Regions from separate parts of the Homo sapiens genome. Here all the other regions are linked to region 1. The links come from fine-mapping of genetic effects on gene expression. A gene starts in region 1. Each other region holds a variant in brackets. All regions are shown on one strand. Distances are between the middles of the regions. Region 1 holds the start of MUC20 (mucin 20, cell surface associated). Region 2 overlaps NRROS (negative regulator of reactive oxygen species). Region 3 overlaps LOC124909478 (a long non-coding RNA gene). Region 4 overlaps MUC4 (mucin 4, cell surface associated). Region 5 has its middle 36 kb from the start of TFRC. Region 6 has its middle 9.9 kb from the start of MIR570HG. Region 7 overlaps MUC4 (mucin 4, cell surface associated).

Region 1 (4,078 bases):
CAGGGTTTGAGATGGTCTTTACCCAGCTCCACTGGCCCAAAAGTAGCCCATAGACCCAAAAGGGGCCTAGCACCTCTCCCCAGGGCATCAGGATGGGGCCCCAGGTCCCCAACTGGTTGTCCTGTGGACCTCAGGGAATGACGACGCAGGAGTCAAGAGCCTCGGTTGCAGCTCCCGCTGTGCCGCCCACGACTGGCTCCGGGGTCAGATGATCTGCTGGTTCAAATCCTGACTCAGCCTCCTACTAGCCAGGCCAGTCTCTAGACCCCTCCCAGCCTCCATGTCCTCACCTGAGAAAACAGGGTCACAATACCTGCCTTGCCAACGTGATGAGGACCAGCGGAGAAGGTGAAAGGGCTTATATTCCAAAGCCCACAAGGTAAGCATCCCTCCCTATGGAGTCCTCTCCCAGGCCACTGGAAAGCACGCATAGTTGATCTGACTATAGTGAGGAGTGCGGGCTGCACCCCCAGGCAGTATAGGCGAGTCCCGGGCACCCACTCTCATCCCTGGTCCAGTGCGGCCCAGCTGCACACACAAATCTCACTTTTGCAGGAACTGTTCGTCTGCCTTCATAATACAGTTTCTTCTCCCCACTTCAAGCCTGAGATCATTTCTTTGAGCCTTCTTGGTCCAGCCCACACAGCTGGAAGCCCAGAGTGGTGCCCTTGGAGCCCGACTTCCCCTGGCACATTTTCTGGCTTATCCAGGAGCCCCGGGGTGTCCTTTCTGCTGTGAAACCTCCTCATGCTCCCCAAGCCCACAGCCTCTCGGGTCCAAGGGGGTCTTCTCGAATACAGCAAATCCCAGCCCAGCCCCTCAGTAGCTCTGGAACACTGCGGCTCTCCTGGTACAATCTTCAAATCTGGTGGAGAGGAAAGCGTGTGGACTTGGGACCCTGAGTTGGAGAATCTGCTCTCTGCCCTGTGACCCTGGCCAAGTCTCTCAGCTCCAAGCCTGCATTTCCGCACCTGTAAGGTGGAGCTAACGGGACACGTGCAGCGCAGACCAGGCCACGGTGAGCACAGGCAGGAGGCCACGGGGTGCAGTGCTCAGGCCTGTGAGGAGTCAGATTCTGGCTCCGAGGAGTTGTTACTGGATGCCCAGAAGCACAGTGGCCTCACCCTTAAAGCAGTGGAGGTGGGGGGTGGTAAAAACAGGGCCGATCTTGCAGGGCCGTTGTGAGGATTAAAAATACAATGTATGATAATGATGCATCAAAGTAGGTTCCTCAGTCCTATCAAATGTGCCACTCTGGTGGGGGACGCTGATGATGGGGGAGGCTGTGAGTGGTGGGGATGGGAACTCCAGACTCTCCACTGCAGCTTTTTTTTTTTTGAAACATAGTTTCACTTTTGTTGCCCAGGCCAGAGCGCAAGGGTGCGATCTCAGCTCACTGCAAACTCCACCTCCCAGGTTCAAGCAATTCTCCTGCCTCAGCCTCCCGAGTAGCTGGGATTACAGGCACCTGCTACCACCCCCGGCTAATTTTGTATTTTTAGTAGAGACGGGGTTTCTCCATGTTGGTCAGGCTGGTCTCGAACTCCTGACCTCAGGTGATCCACCCACCTCAGCCTCCCAAAATGCTGGGATTACAGGTGTGAGCCACCACGCCCGGCCTCTCCACTCGAGGTTTAGAGGGAGCATAGAACTAAAAAAAAAATAAATCCTTTTCTATTTTTTAATGTATGTGATGAGTTTGGCACAACTCCTATTAGCGACAGGTCAGGGTTCATTCCCGTCTTTCACAAAAGCCCTGCCTGTCAGCATCCACCCTTCCCAAGCAGTTTGTGGCAGTTGGACTTTTCACACGAAATCTGTATTTTGAAGGAAATCCATGCTAGGTAATAAACTGGGAGGAGTCAGAATCTTGTTAAGCCACATTCTTCAGCTTTCTGCACAATGATCACCAGCTGGCACCTCCCTGCACCCCCGCTCCGTGCCCCACTTACTGTCCCACGTTCATAAAGACAAACTCTCAGCCATCCCTTACGATGGCAGCGTCATGGTTGATTAGCGTGTACTGCAGCGCCAGGCACGCTTACACTCACACACATCGTCATGGTTGATTAGTGTGTACTGCAGCGCCATGCACGCTTACACTCACACTGTCATTTGCACACTCTTTATCAACAATAATAGCACTTCACAAGTAGCACTGTGGTTCATTATAATCAACCCGAGAGAGCCTGCCCTTGCCCATGAAGGGTGGCTCATACTGAAATTCACTCCCAGAGCCCTACTAGGGGAGAGGCCCACCAGGCCCTTCTAGGCCTCCTTACCTGCAGAGCTCCCAGAGACCCCAACCTCCCAGCAGAAGAAGAAAAGGGGCAGAGCCAGACCCCAGAGACAGCCCATCCTAGCCGGCCACCGCTGCTCCACAGAACTGCTGGCTGTCTCTCGCGGGTACCTTTTCCTGCTTCCTCAAACCAGGGAGGAGGGGCAGCCTCCTGCCCAGGTGTGTGACCAGGTGATCACAAATGTGCAGGCTGAGGGCTGGCAGGTTGAGGCTGTCAGCAAGCTGACCCCCCTGCCTTCCTTGCCCGGTAAACACTCCACTGAAATTTGATTTGAAGATATGGAATCACTAGCTTCTTTTTTTTTTTTTGAGATGGAGTCTTGCTCTGTCACCCAGGCTGGAGTGTACAGTAATGAGATCTCAGCTCAATGAAACCTCTTCCTCCCGGGATCCAACAATTCTCCTGCCTCAGCCTCTGGAGTAGCTGGGATTATAGGCGCGCACCACCACGTCGGGCTAATTTTTGTATTTTTAGTAGAGATGGGGTTTCACCATGTTGGCCAGGCTAGTCTCAAACTCCTGACCTCAGGTGATCTACCTACCTCAGCCTCCCAAAGTGCTGGGAGTACAGGCATGAGCCACTGCACCCAGCCAAGTGCTTTTATTTTCTTAAGCCAATTAATTAGAGCTCTTTTATATATTTTCAGTAGCAAAACACTGTGTACACAACAACACATAAATACACAGATGTATTAGGTATGCTGAAAGAAGTTCATCTTATAGATTCATAAAGAGCTTTTTTCTTACACCTTCAAATTCTTTTTTACTTTTTTTTTTTTTTTTTTTGAGACAGAGTCTCACTCTGTTGCCCAGGCTGGAGTGCAATGGCTTGATCTCGACTCACTGCAAACTCTGCCTCCTGGCTTCAAGTGATTCTCCTGCCTCAGCTTCCTGAGTAGCTGGGATTATAGGCACCTGCCACCACATCTGGCTAATTTTTTTTGTATTTTTAGTAGAGACGGGGTTTCAACATGTTGGCCAAGATGGTTTTGAACTCCTGACCTCAAGAGATCTTTGCGGCTCAGCCTCCCAAATGCTAGGATTACAGACGTGAGCCACCGTGCCCAGCCACACCTTCGAATTCTTGATAACCTGTTTTACTACTCTAAGCGGTTGTCAGCTAAATAGCCTTGAATTTGCATTTTAAGGAAACTGAGGTGAAAATCGAATAGCAAAATTTACATCATAACGTATGGAGAGAAAAAGTCTGGTGTGCTGGAGGGAAATTAAAACAGATTTAATTGCCAATTAAACATAAAATTATAGAAATTATAAAGGCCTTTTAAATATATACACACACACAAAGATCCTATAGCTTTTACTTCAGAAATTTAGCCATGAAAGCTGGGCGCGGTGACTCACGCCTGTAATCCCAGCACCTTGGGAGGCCGAGGCGGGCAGATCACCTGAGGTCAGGAGTTGGAGACCAGCCTGACGAACATGGAGAAACCCCATCTCTACTAAAAATACAAAAAATTAGCCAGGCATGGTGGTGCATGCCTGTAATCCCAGCTACTCGGGAGGCTGAGGCAAGAGAATCACTTGAACCAGGGAAGAGGAGACTGTGGTGACCCAAGATCACGCCATTGCACTCCAGCCTGGGCAACAAGAGTGAAACTCTGCCTCAAAAAAAAAAAAAGAAAAAAAAAAAAGAGAAAGAAAAGAAAAAAAGAAATTTAGCCATGAAATAAATACAAATTCACCAGTTTACAAACAGAAAAACTATCTGATCCAAACAGTGTTTTTTATCTTAATAGAAAAATAACAGCAAATTTAAAG
Region 2 (4,078 bases), 930 kb before region 1:
TCCGCCTCTCTCTCAGAGAAACACCAGTCACCTTCTGTTCCATGTCTTTCTGGATCTTTCGTAAGATATTACCTACCTTTGTCTAAAAAACAAAAATAAGACCATACTGTGCAAACTGTTCAGTAACCTATTTTTCTCCCCCTGTCAATAAAGTATGACGGACTTATTGCCTTGGCAGTACAAATAAATGTGATCATAATCTTTTTAGGAAGCATATGCATTCATCTCATGAATAGCACAGTGGCTGAGAGCAAGAGTTCCAGGGCCAATGCTTCGTGGCTCTGCTTTTGATCAAATGGGTGACCTTTGGATGGTTACGGAACCGAAAGAGACCTCCATTACCCTGCCTGTAAAACCGAAATTATACTCGTCATTTTCGCATAGCGTTTTTTTTCAGGATCAAGTGTGACTGTTGAGGTGAAACACATTTACTGTGCTTAATAAATGTGAGCTATAATTATTAGGATGATCTAATTAATCATCTCCTATTGTTGAGCATTTGGGTTTCTCTAATTTCCAGACGAACGTTAGAAAGGATTTGCCAAGTTCTTTCCACATCCCCCTTCCCTCTTTGGTATTTTGATTGGGATTGCATTATAATTACAAAGTACTCTGGAAGAGAATTTTTATCTTTTTTTTTTTTTTTTGAGACAGAGTCTCACTCTTGTCGTCCAGGCTGGAGTGCAATGGCGCCATCTCTGCTTGCTGCAACCTCTGCCTGCCGGGTTCAAGCGATTCTGCTGCCTTAGCCTCCCACGTAGCTGGGATTACAGACTCACACCACCACACCGGGCTAATTTTGTATTTTTAGTAGAGGCAGAGTTTTGCCATGTTGGCCACCCTGACCTCGGGTGATCCACCTGCCTTGGCCTCCCCAAGTGCTGGGATTACAGGTGTGAGCCACCGCGCCCGGCCAGGTGTGTGTCTTTATGTGAGTGGGTGTTGCGCTCCTCCCTGCGTGTGGACTCACTGGAGAATGTTGTGGTCAGGGGCTTTCTTCACGCTATGGGGTGCTGTTCCACCACAGCTGCTGCAGTCGTGGGTCACACCTCTGCAATTCCCTGTGGCCCCGCTGAAGTGATGTAGAAGGACCATATGGCCATCCCAGAAAAGCTTACCATGTCCACTTTCTTTTTCTTTTTTTTTTTTTTGATACGGAGTCTTGCTCTGTCGCCCAGGCTGGAGTGCAGTGGCGCGATCTCAGCTCACTGCAACCTCGGCCTCCCTGGTTCAAGCGATTCGCCTGCCTCAGCCTCCTGAGTAGCTGAGATCACAGGTGCCCGTCACCATGCCTGGCTAATTTTTGTATTTTTAGTAGAGACGGGCTTTCACCATGTTGGTCAGGCTGGTCTCAAACTCCTGACCTCAGGTGATCTGCCTGCTTCGGCCTCCCAAAGTGCTGAGATTACAGGCGGGAGCCACCGCACCTGGCCAACGTCCACTTTCTAATAAGGTCAAATGGATAATGTGATGAGGGCCAGTGGAGGGCACCCAGACTCTCCAATTCTCAGTCCTCAACTCGGAAGAGCCACAGGAAACCCACTCTTTGGGCTTCCTGGCAGCCAATTCTCTACTCCTGCCCACTGGGCCAGAAAGTGTCAAGCAGAGGGCCTTGCCTGAACTCTGAAAGGCTGTTCATTTATCTCTCCTCTTCCTGTGCCTGGTAACCCCTGAATAACTACTGTGTAGTTAATCCTTTATTGCCTCTGTAAGAGAATGCTGGAGGTCAAACATAGCAGAGATTAATAATAATATGAGTGATAACGGATAAAACGCGTAGCACTGACTACCTACCAGGCACTGTCCTGAGTGCTTTACATGTATTAACCCATTTAATCATCAGTCAACACAGCATGATGTTATTGGTAGATATTATTATTACGTATATATTCTACAGATGGAGAAACTATGACCTAGAGTGACCCCAATGTCACCAGCTAAGGGTGGGGCTGGGTTTAAACCAGGCCAGTCTAGCTTGTAACCTCTATGTCATATTGGAATAGACTCTAGCACAGTGGTTATAGGTTCCTACTAAAAGAGGTTAAAAACCATGACAGCTATGCTTTAAGAATACATACTTGAATGTAAGTGTTAGCCCTGACATCCAATTTGTCTTCCCAACGCCTAGTATATAATATGGCTCAAGAAATGTTTATTAAATATGTGTTTCATTTTTTTTTTCTTTTTTGAGATGGAGTATCACTCTGTCACCCAGGCTGGAGTGCAGTGGCACGATGTCAGCTCACTGCAACCTCTGCCTCCCAGGTTCAAGCAATCTTCCTCAGCCTCCCGAGTAGCTGGGACTACAAGCATGTGCCACCATGCCTGGGTAATTTTTGTATTTTTAGTAGAGACGGGTTTTTACTATGTTGGCCAGGCTGGTCTCGACCTCTTGACCTTGTGATCTGCCCGCCTCGGCCTCCCAAAGTGCTGGGATGACAGG[C/T]GTGAGCCATGCACCTGGCCTAAATATGTGTTTCTTGAGCAGACTTTTGATATCATTGTTATATAGATGAAGGGGAAAATTACTGGAAATTTCTCAGTTTGGACCCAAGTCTATTTTCACATCTAGGCTGAAAGCCCTAGAGGAGGCTTGGGTATCCACGCTCCGGGTCTTCTTAGCCTGAGCGTGGTCCGGGCTGCCGCTCTGCAGAGTGGCATGGCAGCAAGTCCTCCCCGCAGCTGTGTAAGCCTTAGCGGTCAACTCGTCCACAAACTCCGAGGCAGGCTTCTCCAGCTCTCAAGCACCTCACCCGGAGATTCTCATACCATCGGTGCAGCTCAGTCATCCAGTTTTTTGTTTTGTTTTGTTTTTTTCTTTTTTTGAGAGAGTCTCACTCTGTCGCCCAGGATGGAGTGCAGGGGTGTGATCTCGGCTCACTGCAACCTCCGTCTCCCGGGTTCAAGCGATTCTCCTCCTTCAGCTTCCCAAGTAGCTGGAATTACAGGCATGCACCACCACGCCCAGCTAATTTTTGTATTTTTAGTAGAGACGGGGTTTCACCATGTTGGCCAGGCTAGTCTCGAACTCCTGACCTCAGGTGATCCGCCGGACTTGGCCTCCCTAAGTACTGGGATGACAGGCGTGAGCCACCGCGCCTGGCTTTTTTTTTTTTTTTTTTAAAGACAAGGTCTGGCCCCATCACCTAGGTTGGAGTGCAGGGGCATGATCTCAGCTCACTGCAACCTCCACTTCCTGGGCTCAAGCCACCCTCACATCTCAGCCTCCCAAGTAGCTGGGACTATAGGTGTGTGCCACCGCACCTGACTGATTCTTGTATTTTGTAGAGATGTGGTTTCATCATGTTGCCCAGGCTAGTCTCCAACTCCTGGGCTCAAGTGATCTGCCTGCCTCGGCCTCCTAAAGTGCTGGGATTACAGGCCTGAGCCACTGCACCCGGCCTGAATCATCCAGATTTTTAACAAGTTGTTCTTGTTCCGGGAGGATGCCCTAGGCTGGTCTCGGATGCCTCCTATCCTCAGCAGGCGTGAGAACGGCGGGGCAGGGACTGCCTGGCTCTTCCCAGGAAGCATCTTAAAATCCTGTGGTTAAAGGGCAGCTGCACATGCCCCTGTGCTAGGCAGGCACAGAGTGATGCAGGCTCCTTCATTCTCTGCCCTTCCTGATGGACAATCTGTCAGCTTTCCAAATGGACCAAGCCTTGTCAGGACAGGAGCAGCCGACAGATCAGGGTTCAAGGGAAACTCACCAACTTGCAGACTCCTTGGGAGGCTGCTGTGGCTGTTCCGCTTCTGTTCCTCCAGCCCACGGTCAGGAAGTGAAAACCCAGGCAGAGCCAAAGAGGCAGCAACTCCATCTCAAGGGCAGCCCTGTGGACAGAGAGCAGGGAAGAGGTAAGTCAGAGAAGGACATCCCAGAGGGCTGTTTGTATTATCGGCAGAAGGAGCCAGTTCCAATTCTATGTGGTCTTGGAGCTCTGTGGAGCTCCATAGAGGTGCAGCCCACAGGATACTCAGATACCTCCATTTAGCCAAGACTTCCGGCCTTTCACTGAAACTGTTGACAAGAACTCAATTTCATTTTGCCTCTACCACTTGATGGACGGGTGGCTGAACACTA
Region 3 (4,078 bases), 310 kb before region 1:
GCTGGGATTAGAGGTGCATGCCACCGTGTCTGGCTAATTTTTGTATTTTTTTGTAGAGACAGGGTTTCGCCATGTTGCCAGGCTGGTCTCCAATTCCTGGGCTCAAGCGATCCGCCCATCTTGGCCTTCCAAAGTGCTGAAATTACAGGCATGAGGCACCGTGCCCCGCCTTAAAGGATGATTTTTATTGTATGTAAATTATATATCAATAAAGTCATGAAAAATCAATCAGGGTAATTCACCATATTGACAGAATAAAGGAGAAAATGCATGATCATGCCATAGATGCAGAAATAGCATCTTGTGCAGATTTACACCGTTTCATTATAAAACTAGGGATAATAGGAAGCTTTCTCAAACTAATAAAATGGCACCTAATAAAACTTACAGCTAGCATCCAAAATTTATGATAAAAAACTGAATTGTTCATCTATAAAATCAAGAACAAGGAAACAATGGCCATTTTTACTACATTTTTTGTTTGTTTGTTTGTTTTGTTTTGTTTGAGACTGGTGTCTCCCTCTGTCCCCCAGGCTGGAGTGCAGTGGCACAATCACTGTAACTTCAACCTCCTGGGCTCAAGCAGTCCTCCCACCTCAGCCTTCTGAGTAGTTGGAACTACAGGCACGTGCCATCATGCCTGGCTAATTTTTTAATTTTTTTGTGGAGAGAGACGAGGTCTCGCCATGTTGCCCAGGCTGGTCTCCAGCTCTTGAACTCAAGCGATCCTCCTGCCTCAGCCTCCCAAAGTGCAGGGACTACAAGCATGAGCCACGGCTCCAGCCCCACCACTTTTTAAAAAATTTATCACCTCAATAATTTTTCATTTCTTTGTGTTATAACCATTCCAGTTATAATCTTTTAGTTTTTTTAATGTATAATAAATTATTGTTGACTATAGTCACCCTACTGTGCTATCAAATACTAGATCTTATTCATCTAATTATATTTTTTACCCATTCTCTTCCCCGCTTCCCCCACTGTTCTTCCCAGCCTTTGGTAACTGTGATTCTGCTCTCTATCTCCATGGGTTCAATTGTTTTAATTTTTAGCTCCCACAGATAAGTGACAGCATATGTGAAGTTTGTCTTCTTGTGTCTCACTTATTTCACTCAATATAATGTCCTTCAGTTTCATCCATATTGTTGCAAATGACTGGATCTCATTTTATTTTATTTATTTATTTATTTATTTTTGAGATGGAGTCTCACTCTTGTTGCCCAGGCTGGAGTGCAGTGGCATGATCCCGGCTCACTGCAACCTCTGCCTTCCGGGTTCAAGCAATTCTCCTACCTCAGCCTCCTGAATAGCTTGGGATTACAGGAGCACACCACCATGCCCGGCTAATTTTTGTATTTTTAGTAGAGACGGGGTTTCACCATGTTGGCCAGGCTGGTCTTGAACTCCTGACCTCAGGTGATCCACCTGCCTCAGCCTCCCTAGTGCTGGGATTACAGGCATGAGCCACTGTGCCTGGCCACTTTTTTATGCCCTAATAGTGCTCCATTGTGTATATGCACCACATTTTCGTTATTCATTTGTTGAGGGACACTTAGATTGATTCTAAATCTCAGCTATTGTGAATAGTGCTACAATAAACATGGGCATAGTGATATCTCTTCGATATACTGATTTCTTTTCTTTTTGGTATTTCCTTTCTTTTGGGTATATGCAGATGACTACTGAATCATATGGTAGTTCTATTTTTAGTTTTTTGAGGCAACTCAATACTCTTCTCCATAGAGGTTGTACTAACTTACATTCCCACCAACAGTGTATGAGGGTTCCCCTTTCTCTATGTCTTTGCCAGCATTTGTTATTGCTTGTCTTTTGCACAAAAGACATTTTAACTGGGGCGAGATAATCTCTCACTGTAGTTTTAATTTTAATTCCTCTGATGATCAATGATGTTGAGCACCTTTACATAACCTGTTTGCCATCTGAAGGTCTTCTTCTGAGAAAAGTCTATTCAGATCTTTTGCCCATATTAATATCAGATAATTAGATTTTTCATGTTGAGTTGTTTAAGCTCCTTGTGTATTCTGACTATTAATCCCTTGATAGATGGATCGTTTGCAAATATTTTCTCCCATTCTGTGGGTTTTATGTGCATTTTGTTGATTGTTTTCTGCTGTACAGAAACTTTTTAACTTAATGTGAGTCCATTTGGTCATTTTTGCTTTGTTTGCCTGTGTTTGTGGGGTATTACTCAATAAATCTGTGCCCTATCTGTAACCCCAGCACTTTGGGAGGCCAAGGTGGGCAGATCACTTGAGGCCAGTAGACTGAGACCAGCCTGGCCAACATGGTGAAACCCCATCTCTACTAAAAATACAAAAATTAGCCAGGTGTGGTGGCGGGTGCCTGTAATCCCAACTACTCAGGAGGCTGAGGCAGGAGAATCACTTTAA[C/T]TTGGGAGGTGGAGGTTGCAGTTAGCTGAGATCACACCACTGCACTTCAGCCTGGGTGAGAGAGCAAGACTCTGTCTCAGTAATAATAATAATAATACAGAAATCTGTGCCCAGACCAACGTCCTGGAGAACTTCCCCAGTGTTTTTGTTTTGTTTTGTTTTGTTTTTTAGTAGTCTTCCAGTTTCAGGTCTTAGATTTAACTTAATACATTTTGATTTGATTTTCATATATGGCAAGAGACAGGGGTCTAGTTTCATTCTTCTTTACATGGATATCCAGTTTTCCCAGCACCAGTTATTAAGACTTGCCGTTTCCCCAATGTATGTTCTTGGCACCTTTGTTAAAAATGAGTTCACTGTAGATGTATGGCTTTATTTTTGGGTTCTCTATTCTGTTCCATTAATCTATGTATCTGTTTTATGTGGGTACCATGATGTTTTCTTTACTATAGCTTTGTAATATAATTTAAAGTCAGGTAATGTGATTCCTTTAGTTTTGTTCTTTTTGCTCAGGATGAGTTTGGTTATTCTGTGTCATTTGTGGTTCCATATGAATTTTAGGATTATTTTTTCTATTTCTGTGAAGGATGTCATTGTTATTTTGATAGTGAATCTGTAGATTGCTTTGGGTAATATGGAAATTTTAACAATATTGATTCTTCCAATCCATGAATATGGAATATCTTTCCATTTTGTGTGTGTCCTCTTTGATTTCTTGTATCAATGTTTTACAGTTTTCATTGCAGAAATCTTTCACATCTTTGGTTAAGTTTATTTCTAGGTATTTTATTTTATTTGTAGTTATTGTTAAGTGGGATTAATTTCTTTATTTCTTTTTCAGCTTGCTCTGTTGGCATATAGAAATGCTACTGATTTTTGTATGTTGATTTTGTTGATTGGCATTGATCAACAAAGTTGCAGTTGTTGATCCTGCAACTTTACTGAATTTGTTTATCAGTTCTAACAGTTTTTTGGTGGAATCTTTAGGTTTTTACGAATAAAAGATCATATAATCTGGAAATAAGATAGTTTGACTTCCTTCTTTCCAATTTGCATGTCTTTATTTCTTTGTCTTGTTTGATTGCTCTGGCTAGGACTTCCAGCACTATGTTGAATAGCAGTGGTCAAAGTGGGCATCCTTGTGGTGTTCCAGAGCTTAGAGGAAAGACTTTCAGTTTTTCCTCTTCAGTATGAGACTAGCTGTGGGTCTGTTGTGTATGGCTTTTATTGTGTTGTGGTATGTTCCTCCTATACACAGTTTTTTGAGGGTTTTTATCATGAAGGGATGTTGAACTTTATCAAATACTTTTTCGGCATCAATTAAAATCATCATATGATTTCTGTCCTTCATTCTGTTGATATGATGTATCACATTGATTGATTTGCATATGTGGAACCTACCTTGCATCCCTGGTATCAATCCCACTTGGTCGTGATGAATGATATTATTAATATGTTGCTGAATTAGGTTTGCTAGTATTTTGTTGTGGATTTTTGCATAAATGTTCATCAAAGATATTGGCCTGAAGTTTTTTTTCTTTTGTTCTTTTTTAAAATGTGCCTTTGTCTGGTTTGGTATCAAGGTAATATTAACCTTGTAGGATGAGTTTGGAAGTATCCCCTCCTCCTCTATTTTTTGGAATAGTTTGAACAGGATTGGTATTAGT
Region 4 (4,078 bases), 43 kb before region 1:
CCGTGTGCTGGACACCGTGCTAACAGCCAGAAACAAAGGAAAAAGACCAACTGTGTTTTCTCTCAAAGAGCTTTCATGCGGGTAGAAAGACAAGCGTCAAGAGGCAAACAATGGCGCCTTCTCCATGACTCAGTCCAGAGGCCCCAATGGGAAAGAAATAATAGTTTCCAAAATGTGATAGGTTGAAGGACATTTTAGCCTTAGAAACCAGCCACGTGAACTGTGAAGTGTAAATCCAGTTCTATTTGTTCTGTGGCAACCACGTTTGGTCGTCAGAAGCAGACGCTAAGTCAAGCGAGGGGCTTTGGGGGAGGAATTGTTGCCCATCTGACTTGGGTCCAAAGAGGTGAGAAGTGGCAGGAGGGGGTGCATTTGTGAGTTTTGGTTGACCCTAAAGCTGAGACAGGGCCTGCAGCCCCAGCCCTGGATAAGCCCTTTCCCCCCCATCCCCGACCTCAGGCCTCCAAGGGCTGCAGTTCTACAGGCTACACCGGGAAGAAAGGCCCAACTACCGTCTCGAGTGCCTGCAGTGGCTGAAGAGCCAGCCTCGGTGGCCCAGCTGGGGCTGGAACCAGGTCTCCTGCCCTTGTTCCTGGCAGCAGGGACGACGGGACTTACGATTCCAACCCGTCAGCATAGGTGACACCTCCTTCCCGCCCCCCACAAGCCCACCCACCACCCTCTCTGCTCACGCCCTCAGCCTCTCCCCAGAAACAGCCCCTGCTTGTTCCCACCCCGCCCCTGGCAGCCCCAGCCTGGGCCTGAGTGGGACTGGACTTGTTTCAGGTCGCTGGGGCCTCGGCAGTAGGCAGCTGTGCAGCTTCACCTCTTGGCGAGGAGGCGTGTGCTGCAGCTACGGGCCCTGGGGAGAGTTTCGTGAAGGCTGGCACGTGCAGCGTCCTTGGCAGTTGGGTGCGTGAGTCCGTGATCTCAACCCCACCTTCCCGGCCAAGTAGGGGACCCTCAGCATGAAGCCTCTCGTCCTCATTCCTTCCCAGACCCTTCCCCTCTCTGGGCCTCCACTTCCTGATCGGGTAACGTTAGGAAGCTTCCAACATCCCCACCAGCGGACATTCGGGGATGTATGAGCTGAGAGCCTCTTTCCTCATCTCTATACCTGGCTCCACATCCCCAGGCCAGAGTGGGGCCATTTCTCCAGGCAAGAAGAGAGCGCCTAGGCTGACCCCGTCCCTGTAGACCCAGATGAGCAGGATGTTTGGGGGAAGACTGAGAGTCAGCTCCCACAGAGACGCTCCAAGGGAGCTGGAGAGCGCAGGGGTGTGGGGTCACGTGGTCTGTGTCCTCCCGTTCTCTCCCCCGTCCCATGGCAGTTTCCACAGTTCCCAGACCGTCAGCCGTGCCCTCCCCACTCCCAGCACGTTGAGAGCAGCAGTACTTGGCTCTCCACCCTCAAGACAGGAAATTTGCTTAGCTCCTACCATGCGCCCTGCTGCACAGTGGCCCCAATGCCTGCAAAAGAGACAGCACCCTATTCACTGCCCAAGGTCATGAGAAGGGCCATGCTGGATTCCAAAGCCATGCTCTTGCCACCAACACCGCCCTGCCCTACCAAGCTCTCCACCAACACCGCCCTGCCCTGCCAAGCTCTCCACCAACACCGCCCTGCCCTGCCAAGCTCTCCACCAACACCGCCCTGCCCTGCCAAGCTCTCAACCAACACCACCCTGCCCTGCCAAGCTTCTCCAGGTCCTCAACCTCCCCGACTCACTGCTGTTCTCCGCAGCCCAGGAACTGGAGCCACAGAGCTGGTGCTGCCGCTGGAATGACAAGCCCTACCTCTGTGCCCTGTACCAGCAGAGGCGGCCCCACGTGGGCTGTGCTACATACAGGCCCCCACAGCCCGGTGAGCGACAGGGCCCAGGCCCAGGAAGAGCCTCTGGGGAGGGGGAGCTTCTGGGCTTCCGGGAGGTGGCATCTGGATAAGGAGTAGGGGCAGAGCTGTGGCCACAAGGGAAGATGGAGATGACGCCAGTGATGGGTGGATGGTCAGTGGAGGGGCTTTGTACCTGAGTTGGGGAAGGAGTGAGAATAGCGGGGCACGAAAATGCAAGGAGGCTTGAGGGGAGGATTCTGTGCTCTGTGAACATCTCCCCAGCTGAGTCCGCCCGGACAAGTGCCCCAGTCGACTGCAGTGAGGAACCTCACCCTGAGTCCTCCTGGACAAGTGCCGCACCTGACTGCAGTGAGGAACCTCAGCCCTACACATGATTTGTCATGCTGAGGCAGCATCTCTTTTTTCCTTCCAGCCTGGATGTTCGGGGACCCCCACATCACCACCTTGGATGGTGTCAGTTACACCTTCAATGGGCTGGGGGACTTCCTGCTGGTCGGGGCCCAAGACGGGAACTCCTCCTTCCTGCTTCAGGGCCGCACCGCCCAGACTGGCTCAGCCCAGGCCACCAACTTCATCGCCTTTGCGGCTCAGTACCGCTCCAGCAGCCTGGGCCCC[G/A]TCACGGTGAGTGAGGGGTGCCGGGAACCTCCCTGCATTCCACCCACAGGGACCTTCAGCCACATACTGAGGCCGAGGAGAAGGAAGAGAGCGAAGGAGGGGAAGCCGGGCAGGAGGGAGGGAGGACACAGCCCATCCACGCAGCTGTCCCGGAGTAAATCCTGGGGATGGTGGATTAGGGCTCTGGCCCCACGGTTTCCCAGCTGCTTGGCTTCGAAGAAACTACTTAATTTGGTTTTCTCCTAGTAAGAATGGGGATGACATTACCTGCCTCACGGGCTGTTGTAAGAGCTAAAGGGCATAATCCGAAAACCATGCCTGGCCCTGCCGAGCACACGGTAGACGGCGGCTGGCATCACCTCAGGCCGCGGCCTCCAGCGCCTTCCTCCCGGCCCAGGGCGCAGCTTCCAGCCCCAGGGGCTCTCCCAGCTGCTTTCCTGGGCGTCGGCTCCACCTGCGGGTCGGGCTCAGGCCCCCTCCCATCTCCTTCCAGGTCCAATGGCTCCTTGAGCCTCACGACGCAATCCGTGTCCTGCTGGATAACCAGACTGTGACATTTCAGCCTGACCATGAAGACGGCGGAGGTAGGTTGGGGAGCGCCGGCCGCCCCCTCCCCGCACCGGGAGCAGCGAGGTGGGCGGGAAGCCGCGTTGCGGTGCAGGGCCGGGCGCGTGGCGGTGCAGGGCCGGGTGCGTTGTGGTGCAGGGCCGGGCGCGTGGCGGTGCCGCGCCGAGTGCTTTGCGGTGCAGGGCCGGGTGCGTTGTGGTGCAGGGCCCGGTGCGTGGCGGTGCAGGGCCCGGTGCGTGGCGGTGCAGGGCCGGGTGCGTGGCGGTGCAGGGCCGGGTGCGTGGCGGTGCAGGGCCCGGTGCGTTGCGGTGCAGGGCCGGGTGCGTTGCGGTGCAGGGCCCGGTGCGTGGCGGTGCAGGGCCGAGTGCGTTGTGGTGCCGGGCCCGGTGCGTGGCGGTGCAGGGCCCGGTGCGTGGCGGTGCAGGGCCAAGAGAGCGCAGCCTCTACCCCCGAGCGGGGCGTGCAGCTCGCCGGCCTCTTCTCCGCCTCCAGTGCAGACCCCTCCCGGCTTCAGCCCCAGGGGCGGGGTGGGGGTGGTGCGGGCCCGGCAGGGCGCGGGTTTGGTGCGGGCCGTGGTGCCGACCTGGCTTCCTCTCCGCTGCCTCCCGATGCTCCAGGCCAGGAGACGTTCAACGCCACCGGAGTCCTCCTGAGCCGCAACGGCTCTGAGGTCTCGGCCAGCTTCGACGGCTGGGCCACCGTCTCGGTGATCGCGCTCTCCAACATCCTCCACGCCTCCGCCAGCCTCCCGCCCGAGTACCAGAACCGCACGGAGGGGCTCCTGGGTGAGGGCGGCTCGGACCTGCCTCTGAGGCTCCGCGGAGCCAGCCGGAGCTCGGACCCCCACGCCGGCGGCCCGGGCAGCCCTGCTCGGCCTCCCTTTCTCCGCCTCCTTGGAGCAGAACCCTTGGGGCACAGAGCGGGCCGGGAGCCGAGGGGCTTCTCCAGCCTCCCCCGAGGCTCCCTTCCTGTCCTCCGCCCGCTCTAAGGGAGCATCAGGGGGGGCTGCGGGGAGGCGGGGGGCACAGCCATCCTTTCTCC
Region 5 (4,000 bases), 320 kb before region 1:
TGATTCTCCTGCCTCAGCCTCCTGAGCAACTGGGATTACAAGTGTGGGCCACCACGCCTGGCTAATTTTTGTATTTTTAGTAGAGATGGGGTTTCACCATGTTGGCCAGGCTGATCTTGAACTCCTGACTTCAAGTGATCTGCCCACCTCAGCCTCCCAAAGTGTGTGATTACAGGTGTGAGCCACCACCACGCTCTGCCTCCTTTTTTTTTTTTTTCCCGAGACAGTCTCGCCCCATCGCCTAGGCTGGAGTGTAGTGGTGCCATCGCAGCTCACTGCAACCTCCACCTCCCAAGTTCAAGCAATTCTTGTGCCTCAGCCTCCTGAGAGGCTGGGATTACAGGTGTGCTCCATACCGTGTCTTCAAACTCCCTTGTACCTCAAGCAATGCACATCTCAGTTTTGGCTAGCCACATTTCAGGTGCTCAGTAGCCACATGGTTAGTGGACACCAGCTCTATAGCAAAAGGCGTAATTGTTGAGAGTTTTCTTATTTTGGCCTTCTACCGTGTGGTTACCAAAAAATCCATCACACAATTGAATCTCATTGCTATGAGTGCCAGCCAGGATTCTTAAGTATGGCCACGAAAATTGTGGCCCCTAGAATTGGAAGCCTAATTGCCTCACCTATGCCCCAGCTTTCCCGTGTCCAAATTAGCCACATTCATACCCTTGAGAAGCAAGATGATTATTAAACTGCTGTATTCTACGGGAGAAACTGCCTATGTGAAAGGTCATGGGTTAGGAAGCTGTCCTAAACAAATATTTGTAAAACACCTGGTTATCTGCAAGACAGCTTTGCCTAGAATTCAATATCAGATACCAATGTCTTCCTTGTGGCTGTCAACAGGTTTAGGTGCTGAGTTAAATAAAGCCTTTGCAGTTTGCTGCATTTGCCCTTTAAGCTGCCTCATGCTTAATCCACCCCAAATGGACAGCTTTGTATAATTTTCTTTTCTTTTCTTTTTTTTTTTTTTCTGAAATGGAGTCTCATTCTTGTTGCCCAGGCTGGAGTGCAATGGCGTGATCTCAGCTAACTGCAACCTCTGCCTTCCAGGTTCAAGCGATTCTCCTGCCTCAGCCTCCCCAGTAGCTGAGATTACAGGTGCATGCCACCATGCTCGGCTAATTTTTGTATTTTTAGTAGAGATGGGGTTTCGCCATGTTGGCCAGGCTGGTCTCGAACTCCTGACCTCAGGTGATCCGCCCGCCTTGGCTTCCCAAAGTGCTGGGATTAAAGGCGTGAGCCACCGCACCTGGCCAGCTTTGTATAATTTTTAATGCCTTTTTTGAAAATATTCACATACGGTCAAAGTGCAGAAAAGTCTGTATTAAAAAGTATTTTCCTCTTAGTCTCCAGAGTTGTCATCCCTCTAAATCTCCACAATTACCAATTTTTCTTTTTTTATTTTGAGATGGTCTCGCTCTTGTCACCCAGGCTGGATTGCAGTGGCATGATTTCAGCTTGCTGCAACCTCCGCCTCCTGGATTCCAGCTATCCTACCTAAGCCTCCTGAGAGTAGCTGGGACTACAGACAGGCAACACCATGCCCAGCTAAGCTAATTTTTGTATTTTTTGAGAGATGGGGTTTTGCCTTATTACCCAGGCTGGTCTCAAACTCCTGGACTGAAGTAATACACCTGCCTCAGCCTCCCAAAGTGCTGGGATTACAGGTGTGAGCCACTGGGCCTGGTCATTTACCGATTTCTTATGTACATTTTCAAAGTTGTCTGTGCATAAATGAGAATTCTATACCAGATCTTCCTAAAAGCATATATGGGGGCTCTGGTTCCACAGTCACCACATAAGCCTCCTACAACCTATCCCTCCTGCTGCTTACAGCCAGAAGCTCAGTAAGACGGGGGGAAAACTCTCCCAAACCTGAGATGTAAACAAAGGTAGGCAAACAGTGGAGGGGAGTAAAACTTGGAGAAGTGACCTCAAAAGGGAAAGAATTGGCAGGAACCAAAAGAGGAACAAACAAAAAAACTGGTGAAGTGGCATGCTGAGTCCAGCCATATCAATAATTACATTATTGACATGTTAACATTCTAATCAAGACTGATGATTAAAAAACAATCAAGGCCCATTTATATGCTGCCTATAAGAAACTTTAAAGACAGATGAATTGAAAGGGGAAAAAATACAATATGTACACTAGCATACTATGACTGGAATGGTTATATAAATATAAGATTAAATAGACTTTGAACAGATAGTACCGTAAAGATAGGAATATTTTATAATTGTAAAGAGAGCCATTCAGG[A/G]AGATAGCAGACTTATAAATACGTATGCACCTTAAAATACATGAAAAAGAAATGAAAATTCTGCCATTAAAATAGATTTTAACACCCATTTCTTAGCAGTAAATAGAGAAGCTAGACCAAAAAAATCAGGACAAATTATTTGAACCACTGTATCAGCCACCTCAATCTACTTGACATTTGTAGAACACCACATTCAACAACTGCAAAATATACTTTTTTTAGGTATATGTGGTATATTCAGCAAGATAGACCATATACTGGGTGATACGGTTTGGATTTGTGTCCCTGCCCAAATCTTAGGTCAAATCGTAATCCCCAGTGTTGGAGGAGGGGGCCTGGTGGGAGGTGGTTGGATCACGGGGGCGGAATGCCCCCTTGCTGCTGTCATGGTAGATCCCACGAGATCGGGTAGTTTGAGAGTGCGCAGCGCCTTTGCTGTCTTCCTCCTTCTCCAGCCGTGTGGGATGCGCCTGCTTCCCCTCTGCCTTCTGCCATGATGGCGCAGTCCCTGAGGCCTCCCCAGTCATGCTTCCCGTGTAGCCGGCGGAACCATGAGCCAATTAAACCTCTTTTCTTTATGAATTACCCAGTCTCAGGTAGTTCTTTAAAGCAATGTGAGAATGGACTAATACATTGGGTGGTAAAACAAGTCTCAATTTTTTTTTGTTTTGTTTTTGACTTGGAGTTTTGCTCTTGTTGAAGATTATGTAGCTCGTTTCGGGAAGCTTCTATCTTCTTACGATCTGCAGCATCTATCCTGTAAACAATAGCCTTGACTCGTCGCTGTCACACGGGCTGGAGTGACGTGGCGCGATCTCGGCTCACTGCAGGCTCCGCCTCCCGGGTTCAAGCGATTCTTCTCCCTCAGCCTCCGAGTAGCTGGGATTACAGGCACCCGCTACCACGCCCGGCTAATTTTTTGTATTTTTAGTAGAGATGGGGCTTTCACCGTGTTGCCCAGGCTGGTCTCGAACTCCTGACCTCAGGCGATCCACCCGCCTCGGCCTCCCAAAGTGCTGGGATTACAAGCGTGAGCCACCGCCCGGCCGGTCCTGGATCTTTATTGTGACATGACCTTTAGTTACTTTCCTCGTGTTGAAACCCACTGTGGCCGTCATATCTCCGCTGAATTCACCTGACGTGATGGCAGTGACGAAGGTGGCCTTGCCCGAGTACTGCAGCCCACGAGCATCGGCTCCATCTCCTCCTTCCAGACGAGCGAAGGGGACCGTCCGGCAGGCGGCAGATGAGCGCTAGCATGATGGCGGCTGTGAGCCAGGACGACCCTCCACAGGAGCAGCCTCCACCCGAGCCCACGACGGCTCCTCCAGGCCCGCGCCACACAGGCGGGCACAGGCCGGCGGTAGCGGCCTTAATTTTTTTTTTTTTTTTTAAAGACAAGCTCTTGCTATGTTGCCCAAGCTGGTCTTGAACTCCTGGCCTCAAGTGATCCTCCCACCTCAGCCTCGAGTTGCTGGGATTCTAGGTGTGAGTCACTGCGTCTGGCTCTCTGAACAACTTTATGTCCCCAAATTTGACAACTTAAATATAAGTAGACGAATTTATTGATATATTCAAATTACCAAAATTAACGTAAAATCAGGACATCTGAGTAGACCCATATATACAATTATTATTTTTAAATCTGCATGTCTATTTTACTTCCATCACAAAAATATTACCTATATAAAATTGTGGTCCACTTTCTTCTCCTTGACCTCAAATTTAACACT
Region 6 (4,078 bases), 43 kb after region 1:
GCTCCTTGTACACTGAGTTCCTTCATAGTTTTACTATCACGAGAAACGTGCTAGGAGTGGACCTGAAGTTTACTTAGGTATGCTGGGAACTGGGCATCAGCTTTTGCTTCCTGTGGGACACACAGGCACCACCTCCGTGATCCCTCCTCCTCCTTGCTTCTCCCTCTAACTGTGCTTTGCTCCACTGACCCTAATTGTCTCTTCCTCTACCAATGCACCTTCGTGGTTCAATTTGGACATTTCATCTGATTTTCCTTAGACTCATACATAATCGTAACACTGTAATGCACATCAACCTAATGGTTTTTCAGGAAGAACAAATGAAAAAAATTGCATCTCAGAATCTAGTATTACATTCTTTCATGTCCTTTAGCAGCGACGTTTTCATATCATCTTTTCGTATTTCTGGTTACATTATTTCAAGGCATTTTAAATTTTTTGTTTGAAATGCGAATGAGATATTTACTGATGTCTGAGCAGATTACTGCTGGCACATTGCAAAGCTACTGATTTTTACATACAAATCTCTTATACACATACCTTACTACATTCTTGTTTTGTTTCTGTTAGTTTTTCCGTTTATTCTCTGGAAATTTTTTGGAAATTATATCTGTAAATAATGGCAACTGTATCTATTCCTTTTCAATATTTACTGCCAAGACCAGCTGGGTCATGGAAACCCTAACCCAGTGGCACTAGAGGAAGTAAAGACACACACACAGAAATATAGAGTGTGGAGTGGGAAATCAGGGGTCTCACAGCCTTCAGAGCCAAAAGCCTCAAACAGAGATTTACCCACGTATTTATTGACAGCAAGCCAGTGATAAGACTTACTGAAAGTATTCCTTACAGGAAATAAAGGGATGGGTCTGGCTAGTTATCTGCAGCAGGAGCATGTCCTTAAGGCACAGAGCGCTCATGCTATTGTTTGTGGTTTAAGAAGGTCTTAAGAGGTTTTCCACTCTGGGTGGGCCAGGTGTTCCTTGCCCTCATTACGGTAAACCCATAACCTTCCTGCGTGGTCGTCCTGGCCATCACGAGCACGTCACATGCTGCAGAGATTTTGTTTATGGCCAGTTTTGGGGCCAGTTTATGGCCACATTTGGGGGCCTGTTTCTATCAATTTACCTCATTTCTTTTTTTGATTGTTACTATTAATAGCCAGAGTCAGCAGAAAAATCCCTTCCCCCAACGAAATGCATTTCCGCAAGCATAGGAAGCTCTGTTTGTTCAGTGCTGACTCCGGCACCTCACGGAGCCTGGGATACAGCAGGCACCAAGACACACCTTGTTTGGTGGGAACACTTCTAGTATTCTCACTTCAAACTATCTCAGATTTGCCATTTCTATATCCTAAGGCATGTTCCCATTCTCTAACGCAAGGGTTCCTTCTTTCCCAGCTGGCCTCCAACCCTACAAAAGCACTGCAGGGCATCACTCAGCCTTCTGTGCCTTAGTCACGCTGTTCTTCTCACCGTTCCACAAAACCTCCCTCAAGCCCAGCCTCACCTGAAGACCGAAGGGCACGGGCCTCTGAAAATTGTCAGCAGGGAACCTGTTCTCTTGTGTCTAACACCAAATGCCTTTCAGAATAGGACTAAAGCAGTGGACTTCTTTCTAGAAAATACGCAGAAATTCTTGCAAATAGCAGACAAGAGATCTCATTCATGGACAAGAATCCTTGTTATTAGAGGAATTGAGTTTCTTAGACTGACTATATATCAGGTTCTCCACGGCCCCATGGCTAATGGCTGCCATACTGGACGGCAAACACTCAACATTTCCATCATCACAGACGGTCCTACTGGACCGACTCCCAGCAGCACAGGCCGCACAGATCACTGTCCACCTGCCGCCCACTCTCCCTCTCTGCTGAGTATATTTAGGGGCAGCAACAGGTCTAGCTTAAAGACGTTTCCGAGCTGCTGGAAGCCAGGCATGATGACATGATCAATATCTGGGCCTGAGATGTAAGCACCAGTGTTGTGTTGAACTCCAGGAAACCTCTAAGAGAAAGCTGCCCTGCTGGGGACGGAGCTTCTCCGGCAGTCCTGCGGCTCCCTCTCCTCCACACTGTGACTCATCCATGACAGCCAGCGACGGTCAGGGCACGGAGGTCATGCCCAAGCACACACGAGTGAACCACAGAAGGCTGTCCTGGATGCTAAGCAGTCACTAATTCTGCCCTGGCCTGCTGACCTTCTATGTGGAGAAGAAGTGCACTTCTGGTCTCTTTCATATTCTTGATACAGTGAGGAGTATGTCCTACTGCTGTTTACCTCCACATACTGGTGCAGCCTCGTATGTTTATTGCAGCACTAGTCACAATAGCAAAGTCATGGAATCAACCTAAGTGCCCATCAAC[G/A]GACGACCGGATAAAGAAAATGTGGTACATATATACCATGAAATACTACTTGGCCATAAAAAAAGAATGCAATCATGTCTTCTGCAGCCAGACGGATGGAATGGGAGGTCACTATCCTAAGTGAGTCAGAAGGTCAAGTGTCACACATTCTCCCTTGGAAGTGGGAGCTGAACGGTGAGTACACATGGACACACGGAGTGGACTAACAGACTGTGGGCTCCAAAAAGCGGGAGGGGTGGGGATGAGCAATTACCTGCTGAGTACAACACACACGACTTGGGTGACAGGTACATGAAAAGCCCAGACTCCACCACCTCCCAGTACATCCACACAAAGCTGCACCTGCATCCCCCTAGATCTGTTTTTAAAAAAACAAAACCAGTGCAGGGCCAGGTATGCAGCCAGCCTGCTCACTCCAGAGCGAGTCCAGGCTCTTACCTTCTGCATGCTGAGTCGCAGTTCCGATGTTCTTATGCTTCTTCCATCAGCAAATCTCAATTTGTCAAGATTCGTGACAGATTCTTCCCCAGCATTTGGTTTAATTGGAGGGACTTTATCTCCTAAAACAACAACAAAAAGAGCTAGAATTTAACTTTTGAAAACCGTTTTAAAAAAACAAATGGATTTAGTACTACACACAAAAATGTAGCATAGCCGCTCAAGGAGCCTGGAAACGGTGTAAGTCTCCTGAGCTAACACACTGCCAACCCACCCTACATCTGAGGCCATCTGTTGAGTTGGGGCCAATTTTAAAGAACAGACATAAAAGGCAAAACTGTTGGCACACAGTAGATATCCATTAAGTGATCTTAGAGTGAATAAACTAGAAATCATCTCTAAAATTAAAAAATTAAAATGTAGGCCAGGTGCAGTGGCTCACGCCTGTAATCCCAGCACTTTAGGAGGCTGAGGTAGGTGAAGCACTTGAGGTCAGGAGTTCAAGAGCAGCCTGGCCAACGTGGCAAAACCTCATTTCTACTAAAAACACAAAAATTATCTGGCATGAGAACTGCTTTAACCCGAAAGGTGGAGGTTGCAGTGAGCCGAGATCGCGCCACTGCACTCCAGCCTGGGCAACAGAGCGAGACCCTGTCTTACAAAAAAAAAAAATTAAATGTATACAGATTTATATACATTAAGTGTATATAAATGTCACTCCACTAACGGGAAAAAATGACACCTTCCAGATGGTGGTCCCAAGGGGCCGGCCGCCCCACTGTCCTTCACATTAGGGGGAGGAAGGTGGCTGCTGTGTGCTTGCAAGTCACCTGCTGATTTGGACTGTTGTGTGCTCTCACCTATACTTCAAGATTTGCAATTTTTTTTTTTTTTTTTTGAGATGGAATTTTGCTCTGTAGCCCAGGCTGGAGTGCAGTGGCACCATCTCGGCTCACTGCAACCTCCACCTCCTGGTTCAAGCAATCCTCCTGCCTCAGACTCTGGAGTAGATGGGACTACAGGAGTTTGCAACCATACCTGGCTAATTTTTGTATTTTCAGTAGAGATGGGGTTTCACCATGTTGGCCAGGCTGGTCTCGAACTCCTGACCTCAGGTGAGCCACCTGCCTCAGCCTCCCAAAGTGCTGGGATCACATGTGTGAGCTGCTGCGCACGGCCAAGATTTGCAACTCTTGTGTTTCCAAGATGTCTTGAAAAAAGTTTTAAAGGTTTTTTTTTTTTATAAAATTATATGTATTTTTTCTTCAATAGGTA
Region 7 (4,072 bases), 27 kb before region 1:
GCAAGCACCCAGCCAGGGCCTTGCTGACTGTGGCTGCTAATAAAACAGCAGCAATTTAGTTTCATAAAATTGCTAATAGTTTTCTTAAAATGCCATTGCACTTAAGCATACACAGGGACACCCCCATCGTCTCTGCTCTCCAGCGGGAGGATATGAAGCTGGAGACTGGAGACTGGCCAGGGACAGAGGCAACTACTCCCTGAAATGGTGTCACCCTGTGCAAGCACCTTCCCCAGGCCAGGCCAGGCCTCAACACCCCCCAGCACCTTCCCCAGGCCAGGCCAGGCCTCAACACCCCCCAGCACCTTCCCCAGGCCAGGCCTCAACACCCCCCAGCACCTCCCCGAGGCCAGGCCTCAACACTCCCCAAGCACCTTCCCCAGGCCAGGCCTCAGCACCCCCATCTGAAAATGAGATGGGATTTCTGAGCCCCCTTTCAGTGCTGACAGCCCCCGGTTTTCCTGGAACAGGAATAAGTTGGCAAGCTTGTCAGAGAAACAAAGGAATAACACGTCCTATTTTCTGTATAGGGCAGAGAACAGGGCAGGGGCCGCCCCAAACACAACAGGAACTGCTGTTTTACTTGGGTCTGGGACCAAGCAAGAGCTTCTCCCAGAATCCAGGCTAAGCCCGCTCTCTCCCGGAGCAGGGGGTGAAATCCCTCAGAACTACTGTATGTTGGGGAGTTGGGGTAGGAGGCGCAGGGAGGCAAGCCCTGACTATGCAATTAAGGAAAACCTATAATTTTTATTATACAAGCATCGTATGTTTATTGCAGAAACTTTAGGAAACACAAACTTAACAAAAAGAAAAGAGGAAAAAAACCCTGTAATCCCAATCCCCAGAGAGACAACAGTATTTCCTACATATCCTTCTGAACTTTCTTTTATGCCTAGGAACCTTCAGACATCCATTTTTTACTGAAGGATCAAATCATTCCTAATGTTGGAAAACCTCCTCATTAAACAGTTGTGAACAGGTTGTCTCATATATTCTGTCCACATTCCCATTTGACATATTATGATGGTATGTTTGAATATAGTGTCATATTTTAAAATACATTATAATAATCATTACCATTGTTTGAGTGCTTACTGTGTGTCCGGCACTGTACTGAGTACTGTGGACACATTATCTCATTTAAATCTCACAGCAGCATAAGTGCTATTATGATCATTTCCTTTTAAAGATAAGGAAACTGAAGCTGAAAGAGTGAAGGAATGTTCCCTGAATTACACATCTAGTCACTAGCAGAGTTTCAGTTTCCACCCAAGTCTGGCCACCTTCAAAGCATGTGCTCTTCAGGAAAGCATTTTCCATAGGAACCTTTTTCCACAGGAACCTTTTTCCCTAGGAACCTTTTTCCCTAGGAAACTTTTTCCATAGGAAGCACCATCCCTTGGTAAGGATGTGCAGTAGTTTATTTAACCAGACCCTACTTCTGAAACGTTACTATTATCCACCATGCTGATCTGAACGTCCAGGGGCATATGTATCTGTGCACTTCTCCAATTATTTCTCAGGATAAACACCCGAAAAGGAATTCGTGGCTGAAAAGGTACTGATTTAGTGTTCATCGGTTGCTTTCTGTGTTAATCTGTGTCCTTCCCGACAGTGAACGTGAGCACGCTGAAGGCTTACTTCAGATGCGATGGCTACAAGGGCTACGACCTGGTCTACAGCCCCCAGAGCGGCTTCACCTGCGTGTCCCCGTGCAGTAGGGGCTACTGTGACCATGGAGGCCAGTGCCAGCACCTGCCCAGTGGGCCCCGCTGCAGGTGCATAGGGCTGTGGCCAGGAGGTGGAGGACAGTGCTGGGGAACCCAAGCTGGGCAAGACACTGCAAGGGGTCCAGGAATTAGGATGGCTCGAGAGATCAGAGACCAGGGAAGAGAGGACAGTGGAAAAGGAGAGTTGTGAGTGCCTGCTCTGTGTGGAGAATAAAGGCGCTATATTACAAACTCTGAAACCCAAAAGAGCCATAGGGGGGCTTAGAACTATTTCGAAGATGAGAAAACTGCAGCTTAGAGATGACAAGGAACCTGCCCCAGGACGCAGTAGGTTAAGCAGCAGGGCATGGTTTCCAAAGCCAAACATTTTTTATATTTTTATGTTTTGAGATGGAGTGTCATTTGTCGCCCAGGCTGGAGTGCAGTGGTGCGTTCTCGGCTCACTGCAACGTCCTTCTCCCGCGTTCAAGCGATTCTCCTGCCTCAGCCTC[C/T]CGAGTAGTTGGGACTACAGGCATGCACCACCACGCCCAGCTGATTTTTGCATTTTTAGTAGAGACGGGGTTTCGCCATGTTGGTCAGGCTGGTCTCGAACTCCTGACCTCAGGTGATCCGTCCACCTTGGCCTCCCAAAGTGCTGAGATTACAGGCGTGAGCCACCGCGCCAGGGCCCAAAGTCAAACCCTCCCACCTGATCTGGCTGCTGCTTCCCTGCTGTCTCCTTGTGGGAAAAGAACCTGCAGTCCTGTGTCTAGGCCAGTCCTGCCCCTCAGTCAAGCGAGGCGCCTTTGCCCCTGCCCTCATCAGCAGTCCCCGGGGCTCCGCTGGTTAACAGCGCAGGAAGCCGCGGCCCCACGCAGACCTGGGCTCCGGGCCCTCCGCCAGCTGCAGTTCCAGATCCCGCCGAAGGAGGGGGCGGGCGGAGCGCGGGTGGGGCGGGGCCCGGCTCTCCGGGTGGGCGGGGCGGGGCGGGGCCGGGCTGGGGCGGGGGTGTGACTGCGCATGCCCACCTGTGGCCGGCATCCCTGCCGCCCAGGTGCAGCTGACTGCACGTGCAGCTGAATTCACACCAGGTTTTTGTTTTTGTTTTTTGAGACGGAGTCTTGCTCTGTCCCCCAGGCTGGAGTGCAGTGTTGCAATCTCGGCTCACTGCAACCTCCACCTCCCAGGTTCAAGCGATTCTGCCTCAGCCTCCTGAGTAGCTGGGATTACAGGTGCGCACCACCACGCCTGGCTAATTTTGTATTTTTAGTAGAGATGGGGTTTCACCGTGTTGGCCAGTCTGGTCTCGAACCCCTGACCTCAAGTGATGCGCCCGCCTCAGCCTCTCAATGTGCTGGGATTACAGGCGTGAGCCCCCGCGCCGGCCCAGGCCCATGTTTTTAAAGCCCACACCTGCCTCCTTTGCCCAGTGGTCTCACTTCAGCACGGCCTCAGGGCTGACTCAGTCTCTCCGGAGAGTGGGGCGAGCCCAGCCTCTCCTACAGAACCTCTTCTTCCCCAGCAGAAGAGGAGGGGCTGGGAGGCTGAGCTCCCGCCTCTGACCGCCTGTCTGTCTCTCTTGGTCACCAGCTGTGTGTCCTTCTCCATCTACACGGCCTGGGGCGAGCACTGTGAGCACCTGAGCATGAAACTCGACGCGTTCTTCGGCATCTTCTTTGGGGCCCTGGGCGGCCTCTTGCTGCTGGGGGTCGGGACGTTCGTGGTCCTGCGCTTCTGGGGTTGCTCCGGGGCCAGGTTCTCCTATTTCCTGAACTCAGCTGAGGCCTTGCCTTGAAGGGGCAGCTGTGGCCTAGGCTACCTCAAGACTCACCTCATCCTTACCGCACATTTAAGGCGCCATTGCTTTTGGGAGACTGGAAAAGGGAAGGTGACTGAAGGCTGTCAGGATTCTTCAAGGAGAATGAATACTGGGAATCAAGACAAGACTATACCTTATCCATAGGCGCAGGTGCACAGGGGGAGGCCATAAAGATCAAACATGCATGGATGGGTCCTCACGCAGACACACCCACAGAAGGACACTAGCCTGTGCACGCGCGCGTGCACACACACACACACACACACGAGTTCATAATGTGGTGATGGCCCTAAGTTAAGCAAAATGCTTCTGCACACAAAACTCTCTGGTTTACTTCAAATTAACTCTATTTAAATAAAGTCTCTCTGACTTTTTGTGTCTCCAAAACCAGGAATTCCATTCTTGATTTTCTTCTGGTGGCCGAAGGGCTGGACACAGACTTCTCCCAACCATCAGAGGGCACAGAGTGTGGAGGTTAAGTGCTGGGCAGCAGTGGAGCATTAGGGGCAGCTGGATCCAGTCCTAATCAGCCCGGTTACCCATG

Evidence for each region.
Region 2: its variant is fine-mapped to the expression of MUC20 in putamen (GTEx, PIP 0.96).
Region 3: its variant is fine-mapped to the expression of MUC20 in skeletal muscle (GTEx, PIP 0.92).
Region 4: its variant is fine-mapped to the expression of MUC20 in pituitary (GTEx, PIP 0.95).
Region 5: its variant is fine-mapped to the expression of MUC20 in blood mononuclear cells (TOPMed, PIP 0.92).
Region 6: its variant is fine-mapped to the expression of MUC20 in spleen (GTEx, PIP 0.94).
Region 7: its variant is fine-mapped to the expression of MUC20 in tibial artery (GTEx, PIP above 0.99). The same link has a PIP of 0.9 or more in spleen and whole blood.

Annotation. Positions count from the first base shown.
Region 1 is chr3:195,719,288-195,723,365 of GRCh38, reverse strand. MUC20 (mucin 20, cell surface associated) reads right to left here and starts at 2,388. Exons shown (of 4, transcript NM_001282506.2): 1 at 2,283-2,388. The coding sequence starts at 2,358.
Region 2 is chr3:196,654,277-196,658,354 of GRCh38, reverse strand. NRROS (negative regulator of reactive oxygen species) reads right to left here. Exons shown (of 3, transcript NM_198565.3): 2 at 3,708-3,828. The coding sequence starts at 3,815. Among named protein-coding and RNA genes, the nearest start is that of NRROS, 17 kb to the right of the region's middle. The variant C/T (reference allele first, on the strand shown) is at 2,444.
Region 3 is chr3:196,030,232-196,034,309 of GRCh38, reverse strand. All of the region lies in intron 1 of LOC124909478 (a long non-coding RNA gene), which reads left to right. Among named protein-coding and RNA genes, the nearest start is that of TFRC, 50 kb to the left of the region's middle. The variant C/T (reference allele first, on the strand shown) is at 2,412.
Region 4 is chr3:195,761,831-195,765,908 of GRCh38, reverse strand. It overlaps MUC4 (mucin 4, cell surface associated), which reads left to right. Exons shown (of 25, transcript NM_018406.7): 9 at 460-639; 10 at 787-912; 11 at 1,745-1,864; 12 at 2,268-2,476; 13 at 2,964-3,054; 14 at 3,655-3,822. Among named protein-coding and RNA genes, the nearest start is that of MUC20, 43 kb to the right of the region's middle. RefSeq lists an enhancer at 3,258-3,759. The variant G/A (reference allele first, on the strand shown) is at 2,471.
Region 5 is chr3:196,044,222-196,048,221 of GRCh38, reverse strand. It overlaps the pseudogene ARL8BP1. Among named protein-coding and RNA genes, the nearest start is that of TFRC, 36 kb to the left of the region's middle. The variant A/G (reference allele first, on the strand shown) is at 2,268.
Region 6 is chr3:195,676,574-195,680,651 of GRCh38, reverse strand. It overlaps the pseudogene SDHAP2. Among named protein-coding and RNA genes, the nearest start is that of MIR570HG, 9.9 kb to the left of the region's middle. The variant G/A (reference allele first, on the strand shown) is at 2,366.
Region 7 is chr3:195,746,608-195,750,679 of GRCh38, reverse strand. MUC4 (mucin 4, cell surface associated) reads left to right here. Exons shown (of 25, transcript NM_018406.7): 24 at 1,616-1,778; 25 at 3,300-3,909. The coding sequence ends at 3,504. Among named protein-coding and RNA genes, the nearest start is that of MUC20, 28 kb to the right of the region's middle. RefSeq lists a silencer at 2,972-3,138. The variant C/T (reference allele first, on the strand shown) is at 2,222.